Linked DNA regions of Homo sapiens: regions 2, 3, 4, 5 and 6 are each linked to region 1. The links come from fine-mapping of genetic effects on gene expression. A gene starts in region 1. Each other region holds a variant in brackets. All regions are shown on one strand. Distances are between the middles of the regions. Region 1 holds the start of DSE (dermatan sulfate epimerase). Region 2 overlaps DSE (dermatan sulfate epimerase). Region 3 overlaps DSE (dermatan sulfate epimerase). Region 4 has its middle 8.6 kb from the start of CALHM6-AS1. Region 5 overlaps DSE (dermatan sulfate epimerase). Region 6 has its middle 3.0 kb from the start of CALHM6-AS1.

Region 1 (4,152 bases):
CATGGCATACAGACCGGATTTACAGAGGTCATGAAATTGAGAGGTGGAATTACTCAGTTATATCAATGATACCCAATATGTCAACAAGCTAAGAGGCCTAATTTAACACAATAAAATTCAGTAGAATCACAGGTAAAGTGCTGAACACTGCATTGAGTGTAGTTGTTTAGTTCAGTGATTCTCCAACTAAACTTTTAACACTTTAAGGTTTTATTTGGTAGATTGTAATATGGAGTCAGCTGGGTAATATTGCTGCCATGGAAGCTCCAAGGATATACTTAGGGAAATACAGTAATTACAACAAAGCCATTAAACATCTTTCTAGTTTGTCACTTGGGTGAAACCTTGAATTCAATTCTTGGCATCAGGGTTTGAGAGAGATGTTGGCAAAGTAAATCTCCTCCTGAGAGCTTTCCTAATGGATGAAGAAAAGCTGATGGAGTTAATATGTACCCAGGTAAATTGAAGTATTCTCCTGTGGAATCAAGGCTAGGTGTATCCTGTAGATTCCAGAGAGCAGAATAGCAGATCTGTTGAGACTTACTGTAATGGGGTGGGCGGGGGCGGGGGGACGGGGGGGGCTTTGCACAAAGTGAATGTCATCCAGAGGCCAATTCGCAGGTCACTCAAAAGCAAAATTGTGGGGGGTGTGAGGGTAAAGGGGAGCAAATGACAGTCAGTACTACCTCCTTTGAAGAATTCTCAATCCTGGTTGTACATTGTGATCATCTAGGAAGAGATTTTAAAATGCAGATGCTGATGCTTAGACCCTAACCTCAGAGATTCTGATTTGTTGTTCTTGCGTGGGGGTCCCCATTGGAAAGAATTTATTATAGCTCCCCTGCTGATTCTAAAGTTCTAGGTTGGAGAATCACTGAACTAGACTACTACTTGCTGAGAGGTTACGTAAATTAAACCAGATGTTTTTTCTAAAGTCTCTTTCAAATTTGAGAAGATAAATGGAAATTAACACTTACGGATTACATAATACAGCTAGACACTTTCACAATTTATTCTAATAATTGAATTAGTATATGTAAATCTCTTAGCACAGTGACCGTCTGATATGGTGTAGTAAACTCTCAATAAACATTAGCTATTTTTATTATATCCTCTCCATAACTGTTCAAACAAGGTATTATATTGTTACACTATAGATGAGGAAACTGAGGTTCTGATGTTAGTTTTCCAAGGCCCACAGTAGTAAAAGCAAAGTTTGGATTTGAACCAAAGATTAGTTCCAGTTTCCAGAGCCCTCTTCTCTCCTCGACAGGCCTTCCCTAAAGCATCAAGAAGTTTATGCAAATTAGTGGTTCACCTGAGTGAACATTTAAAAAATTTAATAGTACCACTTCCTCTTGACCTGTTTGTAAGGAGTTCCTCTTAAATGCAATTTCTGAAAAAGAGAAGCATAAACTGAGACATCCACATTTTTTCCTTATTTGGCCAAATAGAAGTGAGAACCTCTGAGGATAGAGGAATTGGATGGAGGTGCCCTTCAGAACTCATGGAGAAAAGCACTGCTCCCAGTAAAATATCTCTCATTCTAATGAATGGGTAAGTATCCTACAAATCTTTCACTTCTGTACAATCTAGGTCTGGTAGGTTACTTGCACACACTGGGTGGAGGTGGAAGGGGCAAAGTATTCCTGAGGTGATGGCCCTGATCCTACCTCACATCTCCTTGGGGCCTGGTTGGACCTGGCTGAGCGTGTTTGAGCAGTGGCTGATTTTTGGAAAACAGGAGGACTCTTCTCCAGGAGGCTGTGACTACCAAGGTTGCAAATGCTCCACCTGAACTTGGGTGCATGAGGGATCTCTCTCTCTCACACACACACACCCCCCCACCGCGTAAGATAAATTTCTGTTTGTGAGCTGCCTACATTAAATGCTTTGCTCCTGACCTTCTGTGATTAAAATCTGTTCCGTTTGCAGGGTTCGGTGCGCTTGGATTTAGTGTATTTTGTTGGTACAGTAAAAAAGAGAACTGCTTCTCTATAGGTGACCCCCGCCCCAAAGTCCCCCCTCCCACTAACTTCTCTTTGAGAAGAGAGTAAAACCGAATTCGAGAGAAAAGAGGCAGTAACTATTCGGGAGGAGGCAGACTGGAGTGGGCACCAGTCCCGGTAGTAAGAGTCTTAACGTCTTCCTCGCTTTCCTCTCGCAGAGTAGTATGGAAGCATCAGCTCCTCCCCCTGGGCCTCCAAAAGTTACCTTTCCTTTGGGTGTGATTCTCGAACCCGAAGCGTTTGAGTCCTAAGAAACTAGAACAAGTTAGAGCCAAAGAGGCCTGGCGGGCGGGGGTGCGGGTGGAGTCCGGGCCGGGTGGCGTGGAAGGCCGAGCACAGCTGCGAGCGGCGAGTCCCGGGAGAGGAGGAGCGGGAGAAAGCGGGGCGGGCCTGCGGTCGGGGTTCGGCCGGGGGAGGGGGTCCCCGTTTCCCTCTCCTCATCCTCGTCTCCTCTGGCTCTGGTGACGTTGCGGTTTCCTCCCCCCTCCAGCGGAGCCTCAGCGCCCGCCGCGTCCCTCCCTCCGCCCCTTTCGCCCACACCTACCCGCCCCCGCCGGCCCGGCTCTCAGTAGCGTCGCCCGAGGCTGCAGCAGCGCATCCCGGGGCATGGCGCGGCGGGGGCGCGGAGGGCTCGGTTCGGAGGGGGCCGGGAGCCCGGGCGCCCTGGAGTGAGGAGGACCGGGAGCTGGCTCTGGAGGCTGCGGAGGCGACGCCGGAGAGAACGAAGCCTCGGCTGGGAGCGGTAAGTGGAGGGGCGCGCAAGGGACGAGCTGGGGCGCGCGGCGCAACTTTCTTCGGGAGTTTCGGGCGGGTAGCCTTCGGGGCTGTCCCGGCGCGGGCGGGAGACGGAGAGCCACGTCCCCGGCTGAGAGCGGAGCGCCGCGGGTTGCGCGCCCGGGCCCGGCTCGGCTGGACTCCGAGAGAGCGCCTGACGCGTGAAGCCTGAGCCACGGGCTTCCCCGGCGGCGGAGCAGCCTCGAGGGGCAGCTTTTCGATCCTCCCCACCCCCTTGAACGCCGAGCACCGAGCCGGGAACACGATGAGAACCTGGAGATCGCATTCCGTGCGTCGGATCTGGCCGGCCCAGCCGCGATTTCCTCGACGGTCCTTGGGGCCTCGGCTTCACTCTGCGGGGTTGGGTGGCACACCCTCGCGTCCTCCTTTCCCTCCGTACCCCAGCCATTTGGGGGCAGGGGAGGTGGCGGCGGCTTGTGTGCAGATCCTGGCGCTGGCAACCCTACTTTGCGGCTGCAGAAGCCGAGGAAGAGCTCCCCAAGCCTCTCCCAGACGCTGGATTCCAGCGCTCCTGGGCTCCGCCGGCACTCGGAGAAATTGTTAGTAAACCTCATCCCCGAGGCAGTCCCGGGGAGGGGAGGAGGCGGGGGCTTGACTCACAGACTGGGAAGCTCTGAAAGCGATGCCACATGGGCTCAAGATCTGTCGGGGCTGGAATCTGAGCTAAGTTTGTGACCTGAGAACTTTTTCGTTTATATCGCTCCTTTAAAGCAGCAGCCTCCTCTTAAGCCGGCTGGCATTCAGATGGAAACCGAAGCCTTTGGTTAAAATCAGGAGGTGAACCTCACTTACCTGAAATTCTTTAGGTCAGGCAATGACGCTTTTAGTTCTAGGAATCTTCGTGTAATAAAGTTCTTTTTAAAAATTTTTTCGTTGGTCATGGTTTAGAAAGTCATGGTTTAGCACTGTTAATTAAATGCATGAAAGATCTCACTTATACATATTTTTAGTATTTTTCACATTATAGAATTTAAACTTTAAGTAATTCCCTCAAGTTTTTAAAAAATTTCTCGGCCGGACGCAGTGGCTCACGCCTGTAATCCCAGTACTTTGGGAGGCCGAGGCAGGCGGATCACGAGGTCAGGAGATCGAGACCATCCTGGCTAACACGGTGAAACCCCGTCTCTACTAAAAATACAAAAAATTAGCCGGGCGTGGTGGCGGGCGCCTGTAGTCCCAGCTACTCGGGAGGCTGAGGCAGGAGAATGGCGTGAACCCAGGAGGCGGAGCTTGCAGTGAGCCGAGATTGCGCCACTGCTCTCCAGCCTGGGCGACAGGCTCAAAACAAAACAAAACAAAATTCTCAATGATAATCTCTATGTGAAATAGTGATAAACAATATTGTATA
Region 2 (4,000 bases), 65 kb after region 1:
TGCGGACTCAAATTACAACTGGTTTTATGGTCCAGAAAGCCAATTAGTGTTCCTTGATAAATTTGTCATGCGTAATGGCAGTGGTAACTGGCTAGCTGACCAAATCAGAAGGAACCGTGTGGTGGAAGGTCCAGGAACACCATCCAAAGGGCAGCGCTGGTGCACTCTGCACACAGAATTTCTCTGGTATGACACATTGGGCTAGCTTTAAAGAGAAATGGTACCCAAGGGTACTATTCATGCTATGCACTTGTTTTTTTGCATTTAAAAAGAAAAACTAAAACACTTTTTAAATCTTTTCTCCATGCCACCTGAGTATATGAAGTTTCAATTCAACTCATATCACTGTTTTTGAAACTCTTAGAAACTTTTCTTTTTTAAAAAAAAATTTCAACTTTTAGATACAGGGGTACATGTGCAGTATACCCAGGTAGTGAGCATAGTACCTAATAGGTAGTGTTAGAAACATTTCTTTATGTTTAACATCTAATTACTGTTTTCAGTTTTTGGTTCTCATATTAGAGCTGTCCTACACTTGCACTATTTCATAAATAAGCATGTTTTGATTTTACATCATTTTTTGAAAGCATATAAAACAAAACACAAAATTTAGACTAGGTTATTCTGATAATCACACCAAAAAAAAGGTAGTAAAATATTTTGTTTTGGTAAATGGAGCATTATAATCTTCTAATAGCAAAGCTGTTACTAAATTTTCAAAAGTGTTTAAAAGTGTTTGACAGTATTTGACAGCTTCACTTTGATAATAAAAGGACCGTATAAATTTTTTTGCCTTAATCTTTTAAGCCCAGAAAGAGAAGCTTGGGTCTCCTTTTTAAAGTATTGCCAAATATGTTGTTGGCATCCAATAAGTTAAAATCAAAATTACAGGGAACTGATTAATCATTAATCCCTGATGTCTTTTCAAGCTGTTGAAATTTGCATTCAACTCCAAAACAAGCTTTCTTGTGGTTTGCTTCTCTTTATCCTTTTTTTTCAAAATACAAAAAAATTAAGGAGGAAAAAATATTAGTAAAATGGTGTCTATAGTTTAACCAACAATTTAAGATTATTTTCATAGATAAACTAAACATATTAAGATGCAACCATCCTTGAGTTCTCTCAGGAGTATGACATAATTACTTAATAGTGTAACCCATAAATAAGTTACTCATAAATATTCAATGAAGAGAGTTCTATAAAGCTAACTACAGGATTAATAGGTCAGATTAATGCTAAGTCTAACTTAAAAATCTGCCTTTATAGCAATATGCAAACTGACCAAAAACTGAGAGTAAGATGGCCAATTCAGCTTACATCTACACTTTTTAAATCACATTAATTAAGCCAACATTATACTAGACCTAAGTAGAGATATAATTTCTGATGTCTTGAAACTGAGACTCTAGAACAACAGATGAAACAGTCAATATCAAACACCAATAAGATTAACTCTAGGTGATTGATTTACTTTAGGGAAAAGTACATAGTGCTAATAATAAACATTTATCATAAATGAAAATAAGAAGTCATTTATTGTCCAAGAAGCATGGCATCATCTGCAGATTAAAACAAAACCAAACCTTTGGACCTGGCTGGTCAGTAGTAGGCACAATTATAAATCCCTCAATATAAGACAGTTTGCTGAAACTTCATCCATTTATATTCTGAGATGTGGTGTTGGTGATACATTTTATCTAATATGTGAAGTTCTCCTCTATTTCAGTTTATTTTTTCAAGGAAAAAAATCTTGAGGGAGAACTCTTTTCAATACCAAACATTCAATAATATCAGTTACTGCAGAACTATACTTTATTACAACTCAAGGCTTGTTAGAGTCCAGATTCTAACATGGCATTTCTAGAAGAGGAGCCCCTCAACCAGAAATTTGGATGAAGTGCTTAAATCCATGAGGCCCAGTAGTTTGAATGGTCACTCTGACATCATCAAGTGAAGATAGTCCATGTAGAGATTAGAGCAGAAATCATTTCGGGCCCAAACCCAAGGATCACAAATGATAAAGAAATATTCCTCTTCCAGTCACCAAGGGTTTCCCTTTGTGCATACTGGTTGTCCTTGGATATTTTTAGAATTGTCCCTAATATACTCTGCACTGCCAGTGCTCTGGGTAGCATTTGTGTGTCGCATCTTCCACATTACCATGTTATGTGTTATTTTCACTGCCATCAGAAAACCATTTAATTTTTCAAAATTAATTTCAGGTATGATGGCAGCTTGAAATCGG[T/C]TCCTCCTCCAGACTTTGGCACCCCTACACTGCATTATTTTGAAGACTGGGGTGTCGTGACTTATGGAAGTGCACTACCTGCAGAAATCAATAGATCTTTCCTTTCCTTCAAGTCTGGAAAACTGGGGGGACGTGCAATATATGACATTGTCCACAGAAACAAATACAAAGATTGGATCAAAGGATGGAGAAATTTTAATGCAGGGCATGAACATCCTGATCAAAACTCATTTACTTTTGCTCCCAATGGTGTGCCTTTCATTACTGAGGCTCTGTACGGGCCAAAGTACACCTTCTTCAACAATGTTTTGATGTTTTCCCCAGCTGTGTCAAAGAGCTGCTTTTCTCCCTGGGTGGGTCAGGTCACAGAAGACTGCTCATCAAAATGGTCTAAATACAAGCATGACCTGGCAGCTAGTTGTCAGGGGAGGGTGGTTGCAGCAGAGGAGAAAAATGGGGTGGTTTTCATCCGAGGAGAAGGTGTGGGAGCTTATAACCCCCAGCTCAACCTGAAGAATGTTCAGAGGAATCTCATCCTCCTACATCCACAGCTGCTTCTCCTTGTAGACCAAATACACCTGGGAGAGGAGAGTCCCTTGGAGACAGCAGCGAGCTTCTTCCATAATGTGGATGTTCCTTTTGAGGAGACTGTGGTAGATGGTGTCCATGGGGCTTTCATCAGGCAGAGAGATGGTCTCTATAAAATGTACTGGATGGACGATACTGGCTACAGCGAGAAAGCAACCTTTGCCTCAGTGACATATCCTCGGGGCTATCCCTACAATGGGACAAACTATGTGAATGTCACCATGCACCTCCGAAGTCCCATCACCAGGGCAGCTTACCTCTTCATAGGGCCATCTATAGATGTTCAGAGCTTCACTGTCCACGGAGACTCTCAGCAACTGGATGTGTTCATAGCCACCAGCAAACATGCCTACGCCACATACCTGTGGACAGGTGAGGCCACAGGACAGTCTGCCTTTGCACAGGTCATTGCTGATCGTCACAAAATTCTGTTTGACCGGAATTCAGCCATCAAGAGCAGCATTGTCCCTGAGGTGAAGGACTATGCTGCTATTGTGGAACAGAACTTGCAGCATTTTAAACCAGTGTTTCAGCTGCTGGAGAAGCAGATACTGTCCCGAGTCCGGAACACAGCTAGCTTTAGGAAGACTGCTGAACGCCTGCTGAGATTTTCAGATAAGAGACAGACTGAGGAGGCCATTGACAGGATTTTTGCCATATCACAGCAACAGCAGCAGCAAAGCAAGTCAAAGAAAAACCGAAGGGCAGGCAAACGCTATAAATTTGTGGATGCTGTCCCTGATATTTTTGCACAGATTGAAGTCAATGAGAAAAAGATTAGACAGAAAGCTCAGATTTTGGCACAGAAAGAACTACCCATAGATGAAGATGAAGAAATGAAAGACCTTTTAGATTTTGCAGATGTAACATACGAGAAACATAAAAATGGGGGCTTGATTAAAGGCCGGTTTGGACAGGCACGGATGGTGACAACTACACACAGCAGGGCCCCATCACTGTCTGCTTCCTATACCAGGTTGTTCCTGATTCTGAACATTGCTATTTTCTTTGTCATGTTGGCAATGCAACTGACTTATTTCCAGAGGGCCCAGAGCCTACATGGCCAAAGATGTCTTTATGCAGTTCTTCTCATAGATAGCTGTATTTTATTATGGTTGTACTCTTCTTGTTCCCAATCACAGTGTTAGCACTGAAGCTATAAATTAC
Region 3 (4,000 bases), 22 kb after region 1:
GATAACAGGCATGAGCCACTGTGCCTGGCCCATAATTCCTGGATTTAATACTTTTTCAATACATAGTAGAATTTATTGGTATTTATAAGAAATTCTTATCCCCAACTTGGGTAAGGAATTGATATTCCAGTACTGGATCACAATGCACTGCAAAGCATAACAGGCAAAAATTACTACTTTTTAAGTGATTCAGCATAAAAAATACACTTAATTATGCTCAATATTAACTTCTGAAAATAATATTAAAATAAAAAATTCTGAAAATAATTTAGAATAGTGTATTCTAAAACCATCATTAAGAAAATCAACTAAAATTGTAATAAAGAAATACTAATCAGAAGATCTTCAATTGTTAGACTGCTAGATAAGCTAGAATTTATTTATAGCTTATCTTAGAAAGTGTAACCGTTTCATTTTCTCTTTTGGCCTTCTGTAAGCAAAATTAGATGCCCCAGTACTCTCATAAGTGACGTTTGTACACTCGTATCTCTACCCTCGTTTCCCTTTGCCTCCATGAAAATAATACAGATTTTACTTTTTTTCTACATATGAAATGATAACCAATCTCTGAAAAGCTGGATACTAATGGTTTGTAGTTTAGTAGTAACATGCACCAGGCTAACCTCTACCACTAAATTATGAATTTAGTTAGATAGCCACTACATTTCTCACTCAGGTGGTCTCTGGTGGATGGGGGAGGAACCCTTCAGACTTGACATCAGAAAATGTTTGTGAGCACTTTAAACATATTTTACATGAATTATTCTAATATAAGGAAGTTATACAATTATCATCACTGGTATAACAAAGAAAGTGGGCTTCACATTATATAATGAAAAAGTGTGCTGTCTTCATGAAAACCTTTCAGGGGACAATGATAGAAATGTTCTTTGACTGTACAGAGCTGCAGTTAATAAAAGCCTGACCTAAAGTTTTTTTTTAATGTTGTATTTTAAGGTGGTGAACACCGTTATTATACATGGTGTGGTTTTGCTGTGTGGCCTCAGGTTTCTAATTACTCCTTCAGCAGCGTGTGCAAATTCTTGGAGGTTCCATATACTATCATTTCATATTGTGGATTTTTGTTTGGAAATTACCTTTTAGGGAGCAAAAGTATTCTTGATTTTGATTAAGAGCTCTCGGTTTTGGCCAGGCACTGTGGCTCACGCCTGTAATCCCAGCACTTAGGGAGGCTGAGGCGGGCGGATCACGAGGTCAGGAGATCGAGACCATCCTGGCTAACATGGTGAAACCCCGTCTCTACTAAAAATACAAAAAATTAGCTGGGCGTGGTGGCGGGTGCCTGTAGTCCCACTGCTTGGGAGGCTGAGGCAGGAGAATGGCATGAACCTAGGAGGTGGAGCTTGCAGTGAGCCAAGATTGCTCCACTGCACTCCAGCCTGGGCAACAGAGCGAGACTCCGTCTTAAAAAAAAAAAAAAAAAAAAGGAGCTCTCAGTTTTAAGATTTTCCTTTTTGTCTGAGTCCACGGGCTTTACACATCAGGGAGTATAATTTTAGGGAACGATTCTGCAGTACCAAAGCCATAGGTTTTCTTAGGATTTGACATATTTAAGAATAAGGTTAGATTTATTTCACTACAAAAATTTACCAAGGACATGTAAGGTTTTACTTTGGTATTGAGGAAACATTCTTCAAAAAATTATTTTAATTATGCATTTAATAAAACTGAAATAGAAAAGTGAGGAGACCTTTTAAAATATATGCATTTTATTACTATAGTTAAAATATGTAGCAACAGTGAAATAGTATGTGAGACCACAGCAAGGTGTTCCCCAAAGCACTTGGAAGGTTTCTCTGAGAGTTAAATCCTAAAATGGATCAGAGAAGGCAATGCAGCCCTGTCTAGTATATCCTAATGCTCTCAGGCAATCAGGGTTTTCCTAAAACTTCAATGGAGGCCTGAAGGAGGAGGGAACTTGGACTTAAATGGAAGCATGAGCAAGCGAGTCACAGTGCCTAACCTCGGCAACATCTGTCTGTTTTCCACGGGAGAGGGTGCAACGTCAGGAACATTCATTTGTCGGGTCTGCCTGTTCAATCTTGCCATGGATATGGGCACACTGGTTCTAGTGTGGGGGATTATTCCTAATCATGTAACTAACTATGGGGCCCATCCATTAAGTTGAGCAAACTGGAGCAGCTGCTCTTAGGCTGAGCTTGGCGGGTGTGGTGGCAGGAGCTATAGGGGATGTACATTTCACTCTTGTTTTCTAAATATGATTACAACTCAGTTTTTAAAATTTTGTCTTTAATGATACCCCCAAGGACATCTGTGACAGCTGCTGGCAATTTCAGCAGCCTCCTTCAAATGAAGTTATGGTAGCGATCTTAACTGGTCAAGTTGCCCCAAGTTCAGGGCCTTTCCCATTGCCTTTGTTCTGATTCTTTACTTGTTCACCAGACAGTTATCTAATAATTCACTTCCTGTGTTGGTTTCCTGTGAAGTCAGAAAA[T/A]ATTTCCCAATCTGCTTGACGGTAAACGAATATGCTGACATTCTGGTTTTTCATATGTGAGAGGTAGGGAAGCCTAACATTAAGTAGCATCTCATCTCCAGGATGATCAGCTGAGATACTGATGGCAGTGATGGAGCCAGGACCAGACCCTGTACTGAGGTTAACCTATCCGCCTTGCAGTGGCAGCAGGTGTCCCCTAAATTTTAATGTACTCCTTCCGTAATATAAATGTGTTACTAAGAAACAGCTTTCCAGCCAGGGACTGTGTTTCCCAGTCGCTGTTAGATCGGCAGGCCTTTCTCCTGACAGAATAAAGGAGAAAAAAGAAGTGGTCGCCTTTTGTATATGAAGAATTAAATTACTGACCCTAGGAAGAAAATTTAGTTAATAGCTCATTTAATCTATTATTCTTTTCTTTGGGGCAAAACCTCTAACAAACACTTGAAAAATTTAAAGGGTCGTATACTTTCCTTTCCAGTGAGTGATGAGCTTACTATGAGTGATGTGTTGAAGAGTGAGAAGCATTGTGTTCCAATTTCAACTAAGTCTCTAATAAGCAGTATGATCTGGCCCTAGTCAGTTAACATCTATAGTTCTTATATTTTTACCTGTAAAGTATGAAGATTTAGTTTCTTTCAAATAAAATATTTTATCAATAGGTTAGTATAATCTTGCAGGTCTGAAACATCTTCCTTTTTATAAATATTATTGAGCTCTTCATGTCATGTTCTATGCTAAGTGCATCACACATGTCTAATCACCCCATGAAGCATATTTCATTTTGTGGATGACAGAAGGGAGGTTTTGAGAGTGGACGTCAGTTGATCAAAGCTAGGAGGCAGCAGAGCTGAGATTTATGCTCTTGTCTGCCCAACTCCATGCCCCATACTGTTAATCATTATGTTGTGTTCCTCAAATTTGGCACATATTATAAGAGGGTTTTTTAATCCATCTTAGTTTGGGGCATGTTTTACTCTCTACAGGGTGATTTCTTTCTCCCATCCTTATACTTTCTCTGTTTTCTGAAGCCTGTGGAATTGAAAGAACTTTTGTACTACCATTTGTTTCATTCTATAAACAGTCCCAGATCATTTGAAACCCAAATCTTTTTTGAAACTTGATGTACTAGTTTAGTGTTCAGTTTTTTCTTCTCAGCATATTCTTCTGTGCTTTCTTTGTGTAAGGATGGCAAAAAAATGGAACTTTTAATGTTATTGAACATTCTCACAAATTAGTTTGGTTAAAGGAAAGAATCTTGGCTTAGGATTTAGGAGGTGCAAGTTCTAGTTCTTTCTCTGAAATTTATTGTGGAACAAATAATACTATTTTGCTATATTAAGTTATTGAAGAGTAAAAGATCAAATATGTGAAAAGCATTTAGGATCACAGAAACGAAGTTTTTCTGTGTGACTGCTGAATCATAATAGCTGCAGTGGATTGTTGGAACCAGAATTACAGCAAAATAATTTGGGGCCTATCTTTGCTTTATAAAGATCTGCTTAAGGTAATTGTAATTCATAATTC
Region 4 (4,178 bases), 100 kb after region 1:
CTCCTTGTCAAGTTTTGGGCCCTATTTAACTAATGCCCTCAGGGTCACCATCTACTCCTTAATATATTTACTTTCAACCATTCAAGAAATATCCCTCAGTATCTGTGGGGGATTTGTTCCTGGACCCTCTATGGATACCAAATCCATGGATACTCAAGTCCCTTCTATAAAATAGTGTAGCATTTTTATATAACCTATGCACATCCTCCTATGTATTTTAAATCATCTTTAGATTATTCTTAATACCTACTACAGTGAAAATGCTATGTAATAGTTGTTATACTCTATTGTTTAGGGAATAATGACAAGAAAAAAGTTTGTACATGTTCAGTACAGTTGCAACTATCGAAATTTTTTTCCAAATACTTTTGACCTATAGTTAGTTGGTTGAATCCATGGATATGGAGAGCTGATTGTATTGAGAGAGGATACTGTTTGTGGGAATCTTTATAATCCCATCATTCAGAGCTCAGACACTAGAGGCAGTTAACACTGGGTTTATGGCTTGGCCTCTACTAAGGATGTGACTTCAAATGCCTCTCCAAATCTCAGTTTCAGCTTTTGTAAAATGTGGAATAATCATATTATTTACCCAGATGATTTTGTGAGGATTAAATGAGATAATGCCTAGAAAATGCTCAATAAACAAAATTTATTATTATTATAAGGCAGTAGGCTAAAGGGATCAGAGAAAAGGAGAGAAATAAGATGTTACTTCTACTCTCAAAGAATCAGTAGGCAAATACGTAAACAATTAGCCATAATTGGAATAAAAAACTAAACTATAATAAAAGAATAAGCAAAGTGTTTTCAGAATACAGATCTGCCTAGGAATATTCACATAAATTTCATTAAAGAGGAAATATTTTAGCTAAGGCTTGAGAATGAGTTAGATTCCAATAATCTGGGCTGAAAAGTCAAATCTACTGAAAGTCTAACCTCATAAACTTGCTGGCTACCCAGAGCCCCCAGTGAAGGTCCCTTCCATTACATTCCTACTGAACAGTGCTTTCTAAAACATACTAATCTCTCATTACCCCAGTGTCAGGTCTGGGATTTTATTTTACCCTATTTACAAGCTAATAGTCTATTACTGTATCATGAAAATTGGCAGAAGAGATGAAATGTCTAGCCCAGTGACAAAAATTGTATTAATCACAACAGCACAAACAGCATGAGTATCATGTTTGCATTGATTCCCCTTGTCCCTAAGCCCTACAGGGGCAACAGAGATGGCTAAGATGGATATTTGCACACACAGCAGGTTGCATTACTGGAGAGAACAGTGAGCTTGGGGAACTGCCATTTTATAGGAACTAATAATCAAACCTGCTCTTTTTCCAAAAAGGAGACTTTACTTCATCTCTTTAAGTTGCTTGCTGCAAACAGAACTCTAAGACATGGCCTAGGTAAAAAGCAGTCAGAGTTTTGCAGTCTTGGCATATGGCAAGACATGTGAGAGTGTGAGAGACTGAGAAGGACAATCTTCCAGCTGTCACTATTTTCCAAGTCCTATTTCAAATCATACTTCCTCATCAGTGTGCGCCCCAACTGTATCAGTCCACAGTAACTTTCTCCTCTGAATCCTGTGACTTCACCTCTCAAACTTACTATAACACTTGACCATAAACCTTGTATTATGATAAAACTGTATGTTTCCTCTTTCCAGCATGATTTTATAACTTCTGAAGATTTTTTAAAATCTGTTTGTAACTCCCACAAAATAGCGACAAAACTGATAAAAACATGTGAGAAAATTAAATATGTTTTTATTTTAAGAAGAAAAACATTTTTAAGTATTGCAAATATTTCTTGAAATTTTGAGACACACGATATATAACCATAGACAATAAATCTGAAACCAGACGTGGCATTTTGGTAAATACATTATCATTCCTAGACCTCAAAACCATGTTAGAGTGTTCATAAATCCATGTGTTCATAAATCAG[G/T]TGATTGCTAATGTTATTTTTTGGTCTTTTTTGTATGGCATTCCATTTCATAAAGGCAGATTATATATAGCACTATAAAATTATATAAATATATTTCATATTTTTCTTATATATAGTAAAGCAAGAAAATTTAAAAAACAAAAACAGGGTTTTTTTCCATATAGTATTCACCAACTTAAGGGTTATTGATGTTTCCCAGAACACACAGTTTGGAAAATTGTACCTCAGATAATCAGAGGCAGATGGCCACCAACAGTTGTTTAATTTACTTCACGATATTCTTAAATCACATAGTCTAATTCAAAAAAGGCAACTTAAATAAACTCGTATCTGAGATATGGTCAAGTTGTAGGGCAACTTATTTCAATGGCCAAGCAAGTAGATGGATGCATAGGGGATTCCTTAAGACATGGTTTATTTCATGGAGACTAGATCTTCTTGCATCTAGGCGTCTTTAAAGATACTTAAAAGCACTTGAAGAGAGGGCAGTGCACAAAATCAAAAACAGATGTTTTTCCTCTTAAAAATCAATTTCCTACTTAAAAATCAAAGTCCTAACTTCTTTCTCTACTTCCAGCTCTGCTCAATATTTCTTGATGAAATAACTGTTCCTATTCAATTCATATATAATCTAAGAGGACTAACTTTAACAAGTCCACATTCTTTAACTTTTAAGTCTGCTTGCCACTGTTCATACCAACAGAATTCCACAGTCTTTCCAGGCTGCCAAGCACATTTATCCCAGCTAGAAGCTGCCTAACTTTCCCTGCAGATGTATGGTAAAGCTCACTCTTTAAAATTGTCAGTTTTATTTTCTTAAAATCTACACCAGGCCGGGTGCCGTGATTCACACCTGCGATCCCAGCACTTTGGGAGGCCAAGGTGGGTGGATCACAAGGTCAGGAGTTCAAGACCAGCCTGGCCAACATGGTGAAAACCTGTCTCTACTAAAAATACAAAAATCAGCCGGGCATGGTGGCAGGCCCCTATAGTCCCAGCTACATGGGAGGCTGAGGTAGGAGAATCGCTTGAACCCGGGAGGCAGAGGTTGCAGTGAGCCAAGATCAGGCCACTGCACTCCAGCCTGGGTGACAGAGCGAGACTATGTCTCCAAAAAAAAAAAAAAAAAAAAAAAAAAAGGGAAAAAATCTACACCTTTATTCCATATCCTCTATATTTCCCCTCCGATTTGAGATTTAACAATTTAGACTTATTAAAAATAGCGCTTGGTAAATATTATCATTGGCAATGACTAATATTTGGAAAAGGTACTTCTGTTCAAAATTGTTGATTTGAAAGTATACATTTTACCACAATAAAAAAAAAAGTAAAGGGATCTTTTTCAGTGGCATAAAGCAAGCAGAGAACAAGAAGGGGAACAAAAACAAACACAATTTTGGAGAGCTAGAAAGTAGATGGTGGCCGGGCCCCGTGGCTCAGACAAATCCCAGCACTTTGGGAAGCCAAGGTGGGTGGATCGCTTGAACCCAGAAGTTCGAGATTAGCCCAGCCAACATGGTGAAACCCTGCCTTACTAAAACTACAAAAATTAGCCAGGCATGATGGGGCACACCTCTAGTCCCAGCTACGGGGGGGGGGTCCAGGTTGGGAGAATCACCTGAGCCTGAGAAGTTGAGACTGCGGTAGGTTGTGATCTCCCCACTGCACTCCAGCCTGGGCGACGGGAGTGAGACCTGTCTCAAAACAAAAACAAAAACAAAAACAAAAAACAAGCAAACAAAAAACATAGATGGTACCTGATAATTGGTCTAATAGACCCGAGGAAAAAAAATCTGAAACCTAAGCCAGAAGTGGAAAAAAATAAGCAATATGATTTACACCATGGAATCTGTAAAATTCTCAGGAATTAGCAGCACCATTCACCTCTAGATATGGGGCTGGAGGTGGAGTTAAAAGCAGAATTGGTTGAAAACCTTTTTAAGGAAAATTGTCCCTCAGATATCTGTCCCGTTCCATGCAGCCAAGCAACTGCTTCTCCCTACCCTAGCAGAAGATGGGAGCTTTAAGCTCTAGATATAGTTTTTCAAAAATATTTCTGGACTGAGAGATAATAGGTATAACTGAAGGCAGGGACACTATATTGAACAAAAGGAAATTAAGTTAAAATGTACATATTGAAATTTTATTTCCCCAATTCTCTTTCCCACCTGGCTTGCAGAATGCTGAAATTAAGCCTATATTCTCCAGGAAAGGGATCAGAAGACTCA
Region 5 (4,000 bases), 50 kb after region 1:
AGGGAGGAGGGCAAGCAGGGGCTTAGTAGAGCCAGGAAAGAGAAAAATTACAAAGGGTAGTCAATGTACATGTGATTAGGCCAGCTAATCACACATCTGCTAAGTGGCAATTATCGAGGGTAGAATTCTATCCTCCCACAGAGACTGAAAGACAGAGACCCTATCCTCAAATGTTGACAGGAACAAACAAAATTTTTCTGGAAGCCTTGAGTTTCTTAGGCAGACACTTTCAACAGGGAGAGGGTCATCTCAGGGATATGACCTTGAGGTATTGGAAACTTGTTAGTGTTTACTCTTCATGGAATGAGGTTGAGGCCTAGCCAAGAAGGCACAGAGGAGCCTGGCTAGGGTTTGATCACGAAGAGAGTGTTTGTTACTACCTTAAGGGGCCCAAGGTTCTGAAGATGCAAACCAGAACCACCATCCCCTGGACCAACTCTACCTTAGAGTAGTACATTAGGTGTGCAGGCTCATCAGGGAGGGAAAGAGTTGTTCAGGAAATCTACATGATTGGTGTCTCATGTTCCTTGGGTGGGCCCTGAGCAACCACATGAGCACAGAATGGCAGTATCTCTTCTTCTAATGTGTGCCCCTTTTCTCAGATCTCATGCCTTGCTCTGTCTTGCTGTCATGAAAATGGCAAGGCTTAGAACCCTTGGACCCTTCTGCCTAGCTTTTGGTAGAGCCACTGACTCTGGCATGTTCTGGCTCAGTTCTTATTGCAAACTTGGTGACATTCTTTGAAAGCGCCGTTCTTCCCCTCACTAAGAAGGCAAAACCATTCTAGATTCAGATAATTCAGATAATTCTGGATTCCATTCTCAGCTTCACTGTTTAACTGTGTGGCTCTGAACAAGTAATCTCCTATCCAAATTGCTTTTTCACAACCTATAAAATGGGGACGGAATACCTAATGTTGAGTTGAGAAGATGAAATGACACAATGTACTTAGAGGCTTGGGCACATAACATGTGCTTAATTAATATGAAGTACACTCCCCTCTCCTTTCCCTCCCTGTGCATTTTGCTTCACAATGCCAGTGCTAACCTTTAGCCACCTGATCAAACACTTGGAATATGGACGCCAAGCCAGGCCAGAGATTAGCTGAACATTCCCCTTGGACTGCTGACTACCCACTCAGAGCCTCCTAGATCAAGTCTCTATCTTTCAGGCTTAATCTGGTCCTCTTGGCAGATGTCTGCCAAGACCCAATGTGCTTTACAGATGAGGCCTCAGAGGTGAGAAATCCACTTCCCTTTAGCTACATTTATAGGAATTCCATACCAAATTTAACATATTACTAACATTTAACATTCATGGTTAGTTTTCACATTTAAAATGGAGGGAAAAAAGATGAATCACTACTGCATTAGTCATGTTTTTAAAAGGAGTGGTAATACATGACTGTCTTAACTTATTGGAGTTTGTTTCCAAACACACAAAGGTGTTTGGTTGAAAGTTAAATGGTTTTCTATCAAGTTACTGTGTTCAGGAGACTTTTAGAATGAATAGAATAATTTACATTTTTAAAATAGAGTTGACCTAATTCTGGCCTATTTTAATGGTGTGCCCAAGTGCACGTGGACAGAGGTGTGGCATATGTACAGTAGACACAGCTGCAGCAAAGCTGGCAAATGGGAAGCTGGTGGTGCACTACCCTGGTACTTTTAGAGTTTGCAATTTCTAAGGAGTTCACTGTTGTGTTCTGAATGTAAATTTATAATTTTTGTAAAGCTTGTTTCATTTTAAC[T/G]TAAATTTGTAGTTCCATAACTATCTACTGTATAAAATCAGATTTTAAACGCAAATCTTCTACTTTATGAATTTACGAAGTAAATATTTTATAGGTTGGTAAAACTATAGTTATTCTGAAAATGAGAAAAAGAAGATGGATCATTTTATTGGAGTTATCCTCCTTTGTTGGAAAGGTCTGACAAATCATAAAGTCTCATTTAAATACACTTTAAAAAATATGTAGATTTGCCTATACTGTGGATCAAATTGTGATCTTTGGAGCATAGCTACATATGGAAAAGCCTGCTATAAAGTTGTTAGGTTCTGAAAAGTACTAGGAAATAGGATTAATTATAAAGGGAATTATGAGTTCTATTGTTTCTAGTATTTGTTTCTTGTATACTGTTGATTAATTTAAATAAGTATGAGTGATCTCTTGGCACATCTTTGTTTTCAAAGACCTAATTTCTTTTTATTGTAAGTGTTTATTTTAGCAGTATTTGTGTAAATTAAATAGACAGTTGCTATGAACTGAATGGGACCCTCCTCAAAATTTATATTGAAGCCCTAACCCCTTATGTGGAAGTATTTAGAGAAAAGGGCCTATAGGAGAGAATTAGATTTAGATGGAGGTCCTAAAGGTGGGGCTCTCATGATAGGATAAGTGCCCTGATAAGAAGCGGTGCCAGAGAGCTTGTACTCTTGTGCACTCTCTCTCACGCTTGCCTTATCCCCACACCATACATCTAGGACAGGCCAGGTGAGCACACAGTAAGATGGCGGCGGCCTTCTAAAAGCCAGGAACAGAGCTCTCACCAAAACCTGACCATGCGGGCACCCTGATGTCAGACCTTCAGCTTCCAGAACTTGTAAAAAATAAATTTCTGTTGTTTAAGCTACCCAGTCTATGGCATTTTGTTATGGCAGCCTGGGCTAAGACAACAGTATACAAATTTAAATAATATTCTGTGAACCTTGCAATGTTAAATTTTAATCTTTTCACAGGCAGTTATTTTCTATAGACTGTCTATATCAAAACTATATGAAAATTTTAAAAATAGAAGCATTTAATCACTTGCAGTTCAAATCTATACCAATAAAAATAGATAGCAACATTGTTTTTAGGGTTCCTTTTAATGGTTATTTAATCAAATAAACTGTCACCTTTTTAGTGATACAGACTTCTTCGATTGCCAACTATTATACTCCATACATAATATTTTAAAAAGCATTTATGATAATAGAAGCAGTCTATCCCTTTAAAATTGGTACAAAAATTTGGATTAATGAGACTGCTCAACTTTGGAAAAATAGTTATGGCTCATTCTTCCTTTCAGAATCACAACTTAATTCATAGACACAGCACATCATGACCAAACTCTATGCCTTTCCCCACCAACATTCCACCCTTACACTCAGAAAATCAATAGCTCTTTCCTGTGTTCAGATTAATTTATTTCATATAAATTCACCTTTGAAAATATTCAAAGTATCAGTTTTTAAACTTTTTGGACTTGGAAGCACTTTGTACTCTTAAAAATTAATGAGGACATCAAACAGCTTTGTTTATTTGGGCTGTATCTATCAAAGTTTACCATATTAGAAATTAAAACTGAGAAGTTTGAAACATTTATTTGTTCATTTACTCATATTTATATATTGTCAAAGCTCATTTCATATTAACATAAACATATTTTAGGAAAAAATAACTATATATACATATATATATATATATATATATTTTTTTTTTTTTTTTTTTTTTTTTTTTAGGTACAGGGTCTCACTGTGTCACCCAGCCTGGAGTGCAGTGGTGCAGTCATAGCTCACTGCAGCTTTGAACTTCTGGGCTCCAGCAATCTTGCTGCCTCAGCCTCCTAAGCTGGGACTTCAGGTGCATGCCACCAGGCCCAGCTAATTTTTAAAAAATTATTTTGTGTACAGACAGTTTTGCTATGTGGAACTCCTGGGCTCAGGCAATCCTCCTACCTTGGCCTCCTAAAGCACTAGGATTACAGGCATAAGCCACTGTACCCAGCCAAACTATATTTTTTTAAAACAAAAAATAGAAGGAAGGTGTTGTTTTACATCTTTGCAAATCTTATGTGTCTGCTTCTGCACTTGATTTGTTGCTATGTGTTTTTTTGGTTGAAGTATGTGAAGAAAATCCAGCCTCACAGGAATATGTGATTGACAAGGGAGGAGTATTTTAATAATCTTTTCAAATAATTGTGAATATTCTTCTTTGACGCTACACTAAAACTTGACTGAT
Region 6 (4,178 bases), 96 kb after region 1:
AAACTTTTTGAAAACTGAATCCTGTAGGGTAGCAAGAAGGAGCATTTCAGTCCTACTGAAGGAACAGTATGTGCAAAGACTAGGGAGAAAAAGATGTTAGCAGAGTTGGAAACCTGAAAGGCGACTGAAAAAAATGAGCAAGGGACTGAGTGTGCAGTGCCTGGAAACCATGAGAAGGATTTTGGTTTTCATCATATGAGCATTTTAGGAAGATGGTTTGCTTTCCTTGAGAGAAAAGGAATGACATGGGAAGCAGGAGAGCCAGGGTAGAAGGAGAGAGACTAATCAGGAGGCCACTACAGTGGAAATAGGTGGGAGTGAACTTGAACTGAGTGGATGGGGACCAAAATGGAAAAAGTAGATAGATTCAAGGTAGACTTTGTACATAGATGTGGCAGGATTTGTTGATAGAAAGTCTCTAAAGACGGTGAGAGCAATTATATCTACGGATAAAATTCTGTAACTTTATAATGCCGGGACTTTTCAGCGATCCTTGCCTTCCATTAGCTTGTCATTCCTGCCCATTCCCCAAATTTGTGGCTGTTTTCTGAATTTTAAAATATGAGATAAAAAAACTTTAAACTATAAAATAATTGAGCACTGGTCATATTTAGCCCTTCTTCCTCTTTTGGCAGAAGCTTATGCTGATTTCTGTTTACCTTTTTCTGCATAAGGCCGTTAAAAAGAACTAACCTACAGGGCAGAATATCCTGTTGTTGAGAGTCATGCGTAACAAGAAAGTTGGCAGCAGAAACAGCGTGATCAGCTTTTTTTCATTCCCTAAAAGAATGCTTTTGAAAATCATATCATACCTAGTTTCATTTTTACTTCCTTTATTTCATTTTCCAATTGCTGCTTCCTTTTTCGTCTGAGACAGGATCTCACTCTGTCACCCAGGCTGGAGTGTAGTGGCAAGATCTTGGCTCACCGCAAACTCTGCCTCCCTGACTCAAGTGATCCTCCCACCCCAGCCTCCTGAGTAACTGGGACCACAGGCATGTGCCACCATGCCCAGCTAATTTTTGTACTTTTTGTAGAAATGGGGTTTCACCATGTTGCCCAGGCTGGTCTCGAACTCCTGGGCTCAAGCAATCTGCTTGCCTCAGCCTCAAAGTGCTGGGATTACAGATGTGAGCCACTGCGCCCAGCCTCCAATATCTTTTTGTATATTCTTTCCTTTCAAAACTTTTTTTATGTTCTATCACTTATACTTGCATCTTCAGTAGTATCATATTGTCTCCATTGTTTTGATTTATGCTCCACCTCCTCTTGCACAGTCCTTAATAATTATTGTGAAAATATATATGCTTAAGAAAATAATTGTAATGGTAGAGAATGGTGAGAAGTAAAATAAAATTACCTCATTCCTTTGCAATATATTCTTCTCAGAAGTAGCCATGTATAAACTCTGTGTCTGCATAAACTCTATCATAAGTGTTGTTCTGTAACTTTTACACATAAAGTACAATTATTCCATGTCAGTATCTGACAATTTACCTCATTTAAAAAATTGCTACTTAGTATTTTACTGGTTAGTAGGATATTATCCCTTTTTTGTTAACCCCACCGACCAGCCCCCACACACATGCACACACATTCATAAAGTG[T/C]AGAAAGGTAAGCACTAAATTATCAAATGTGGTCCCTTCTGAGGACTAAGATTGGTGCAGGAATTTTTTTTAATTTCATGCACTTTTGATCTTTGGAGTTGTTGTAATGAATAATAAATATTAAATGTATAATTGGAAATTTTTAAAAAGTAACCTTACCCTGGTGTAGAGTTTTACAGTCAAAAAAGCAGTTTTGCATCTTTTATTTCATTTCATTTTAACAAGTTTCCAGGTTACCCGTGAAACACCTCACTCACATTTACAAATGGGAATCGAAAGTTAAAGAGGTTACATCATTAATCCAAAGTTACATGTCAATAAAGGCAAAACCAAAGGTAGGGTACGGATCCTCCCTAGATGATGTAGTTTAATGTGGCCACTGGCTGTTTTTATTACTGGGTCAGATTTTTCCCTTCCTAGCCCATGTGACTTTGTGGGCAGAAGAGATACAGATCTCCTTAGTGACCCTCAATATTTGACGTTTTATCTTGAAACTCAGCAACTACTAACAGGAAAGACCACTTTGAATAAACATGGTGAGACTGAGACACAGTAAGTTATTTCTTGGTGGGAACAAGGTCACTGCTATTTGGCAGAAGTCACCACTCCTCTGGGCCTGGCCCAAACAGGCTGCATCATTGGCTGAAGAAGCATTTCTACACTCAGTATGTATTTATTTGCTGGTTTACCAAATGATTCTTCATCATCACCCCCAGCTTTATGCTATCCTGAACACCTAACCTTTAAAGAGATTCAGATGCAGAATCTGCTATTAATATTTGCTGAAAAACAACCACATTGTTATAAGAGATGATTCTACGTTGTATCGAGTACTGGCAAGATAATAACAAGGCATAAGATTAAGAATGGTCTCCTTGCTTTATCCAAAGCCATGGCTAGAAATATCAATGCTCAATGAACTGACTAAAGAAGCAAGTCCTAAGGGGAGTATCTGAAAATAGAATTAGCCAAATACTCAAATGTCTCTGGCTGAAAAACATCTTGGAACTCTAAATTTCACAACATCCTGCATCTTATCTACCAGGTGGCCTACAATAAATTATTCTCCCCAAGATAAAAGATGGAGAAACCCTCCCTCTCTGAGTCAGCCCCAGCAGCAGCAGCCAGGGCCTATTTTGACAGCAGCGCACTCCCACTGAGTGTTTAGCACACCTCACACTAAGCCTACCCCAAAAGCAAAGCCTTTAGTTGACTTAATTTTGTCCCTTCCTCTTCATTACATACTTATGAAATATCTCTTGTAAATTGCAATGTAAGGACTGTGGAATTGATCATATTATATTCTTATCCAGTGAAAAAGACTGAAATCAGGGCTGGCACAGTGGCTCATGCCTGTAATCCCAGCACTCTGGGAAGCTAAGGCAGGAGAATTGCTTGAGACCAGAAGTTCTGAGACCAGCCTGAGAAACATAGCAAGATCTTATCTCTACCAAAAAAAAAAAAAAAAAAATTATCTGGGTGTGGTGCTGTGCACCTGTAGTACCAGCTACCCTGGAGGCTGTGGTGGGTGGATCACTTGAGCCCAGGAGTTTGAGGTAGCAGTGAGCTATTATTGTGCCACTGTACTCCAGCCTGGGTGGTAGAGCAAGACATGTCTCTAAATAAATAAATACATACATACATAAAATGATTTTTTAAAAGATCCAAATCAAAAAAGGGTATATTCTTTCAAGATGATTTGCCACAAGGACTAGAACATTAAGAAGTTCCAAATGAAAGGAATATCCTACAAGATCCGGCAATTTATTGCCATTTTAAAAATTATGAGAAATAAATCACAGAGAAGAGTATATGAAACATTTATGTACAATTTAATAATTATTACAAAGCAAACATCTATGTAACCACCGAAGAGTGGAAGGAAATGTACATTTCCAGCACCCCAGAAACCCCTGCCTCATACATCCTTTCACACTTCCAACTCTTTCCACCTAGAAGTGAGAAGTGATCATTTCTTTCTTTTTGCTGTTTTACCACTTAAGTGTGCATTCCTAAACTATCCATGCTTAGTTTTGCTGGTTTTTGAACTTTAAATGAATACAATCGTGCTGTAATAATTGTTTTGTGATATTCTTTTTGTTTTTAAGAGATTAATCCACATTATGTCTAGGACAATTTATTTATTTTGATTGCTGTGTGGTATTTTATTGTTCAAATATACTATAATGTAGTCCATTGAACTGCTGATGGACATTTGGGTTGTTCCCAGTTCTGGCTCTTATCAGCACTGCTGGTATGAACATTCATGCACTTGTACTCTGATAAACACGAGCAAGTGTTTCTTCAGAGTGCATTTCTGGGAATAAGTGGTAGCATGAGAGTATGCACATATTCCAGTTTGTTATATCATGTCAAATATAAAGGATTGTATCCATTTATACTACTATAAGAATTCTCATTGCTTCTCACTTCTGCAATATTTGGTATTTCTAGTTATTTACTTTTTGTCAGGGGAATATGTAATGGTATCTCTCATTGTGGTTTCAACTGACATTTCCCTAATCATTGCAGACTTTAGGCATCTATACATCTCTTTTCTAGCCATTTGGA

Evidence for each region. PIP is the estimated chance that this variant, and not a neighbour inherited with it, causes the effect.
Region 2: its variant is fine-mapped to the expression of DSE in whole blood (TOPMed, PIP above 0.99).
Region 3: its variant is fine-mapped to the expression of DSE in lymphoblastoid cells (GTEx, PIP above 0.99). The same link has a PIP of 0.9 or more in T cells.
Region 4: its variant is fine-mapped to the expression of DSE in whole blood (TOPMed, PIP 0.94).
Region 5: its variant is fine-mapped to the expression of DSE in lymphoblastoid cells (TwinsUK, PIP 0.95).
Region 6: its variant is fine-mapped to the expression of DSE in whole blood (TOPMed, PIP above 0.99).

Annotation. Positions count from the first base shown.
Region 1 is chr6:116,368,371-116,372,522 of GRCh38, forward strand. It overlaps DSE (dermatan sulfate epimerase), which reads left to right and starts at 2,577. Exons shown (of 6, transcript NM_013352.4): 1 at 2,577-2,751. LOC100287467 (a long non-coding RNA gene) reads right to left here and starts at 3,349. Exons shown (of 1, transcript NR_148944.1): 1 at 1-3,349. RefSeq lists enhancers at 1,384-1,433, 2,948-3,448 and silencers at 2,364-2,893, 2,656-2,950.
Region 2 is chr6:116,433,365-116,437,364 of GRCh38, forward strand. It overlaps DSE (dermatan sulfate epimerase), which reads left to right. Exons shown (of 6, transcript NM_013352.4): 5 at 1-186; 6 at 2,223-4,000. The coding sequence ends at 3,981. Among named protein-coding and RNA genes, the nearest start is that of CALHM6, 26 kb to the right of the region's middle. The variant T/C (reference allele first, on the strand shown) is at 2,246.
Region 3 is chr6:116,390,338-116,394,337 of GRCh38, forward strand. The region is part of intron 1 of DSE (dermatan sulfate epimerase); the gene reads left to right. Among named protein-coding and RNA genes, the nearest start is that of DSE, 21 kb to the left of the region's middle. RefSeq lists an enhancer at 333-492. The variant T/A (reference allele first, on the strand shown) is at 2,477.
Region 4 is chr6:116,470,247-116,474,424 of GRCh38, forward strand. No RefSeq gene overlaps it. Among named protein-coding and RNA genes, the nearest start is that of CALHM6-AS1, 8.6 kb to the left of the region's middle. The variant G/T (reference allele first, on the strand shown) is at 1,951.
Region 5 is chr6:116,417,993-116,421,992 of GRCh38, forward strand. The region is part of intron 2 of DSE (dermatan sulfate epimerase); the gene reads left to right. Among named protein-coding and RNA genes, the nearest start is that of CALHM6, 41 kb to the right of the region's middle. The variant T/G (reference allele first, on the strand shown) is at 1,751.
Region 6 is chr6:116,464,608-116,468,785 of GRCh38, forward strand. No RefSeq gene overlaps it. Among named protein-coding and RNA genes, the nearest start is that of CALHM6-AS1, 3.0 kb to the left of the region's middle. The variant T/C (reference allele first, on the strand shown) is at 1,608.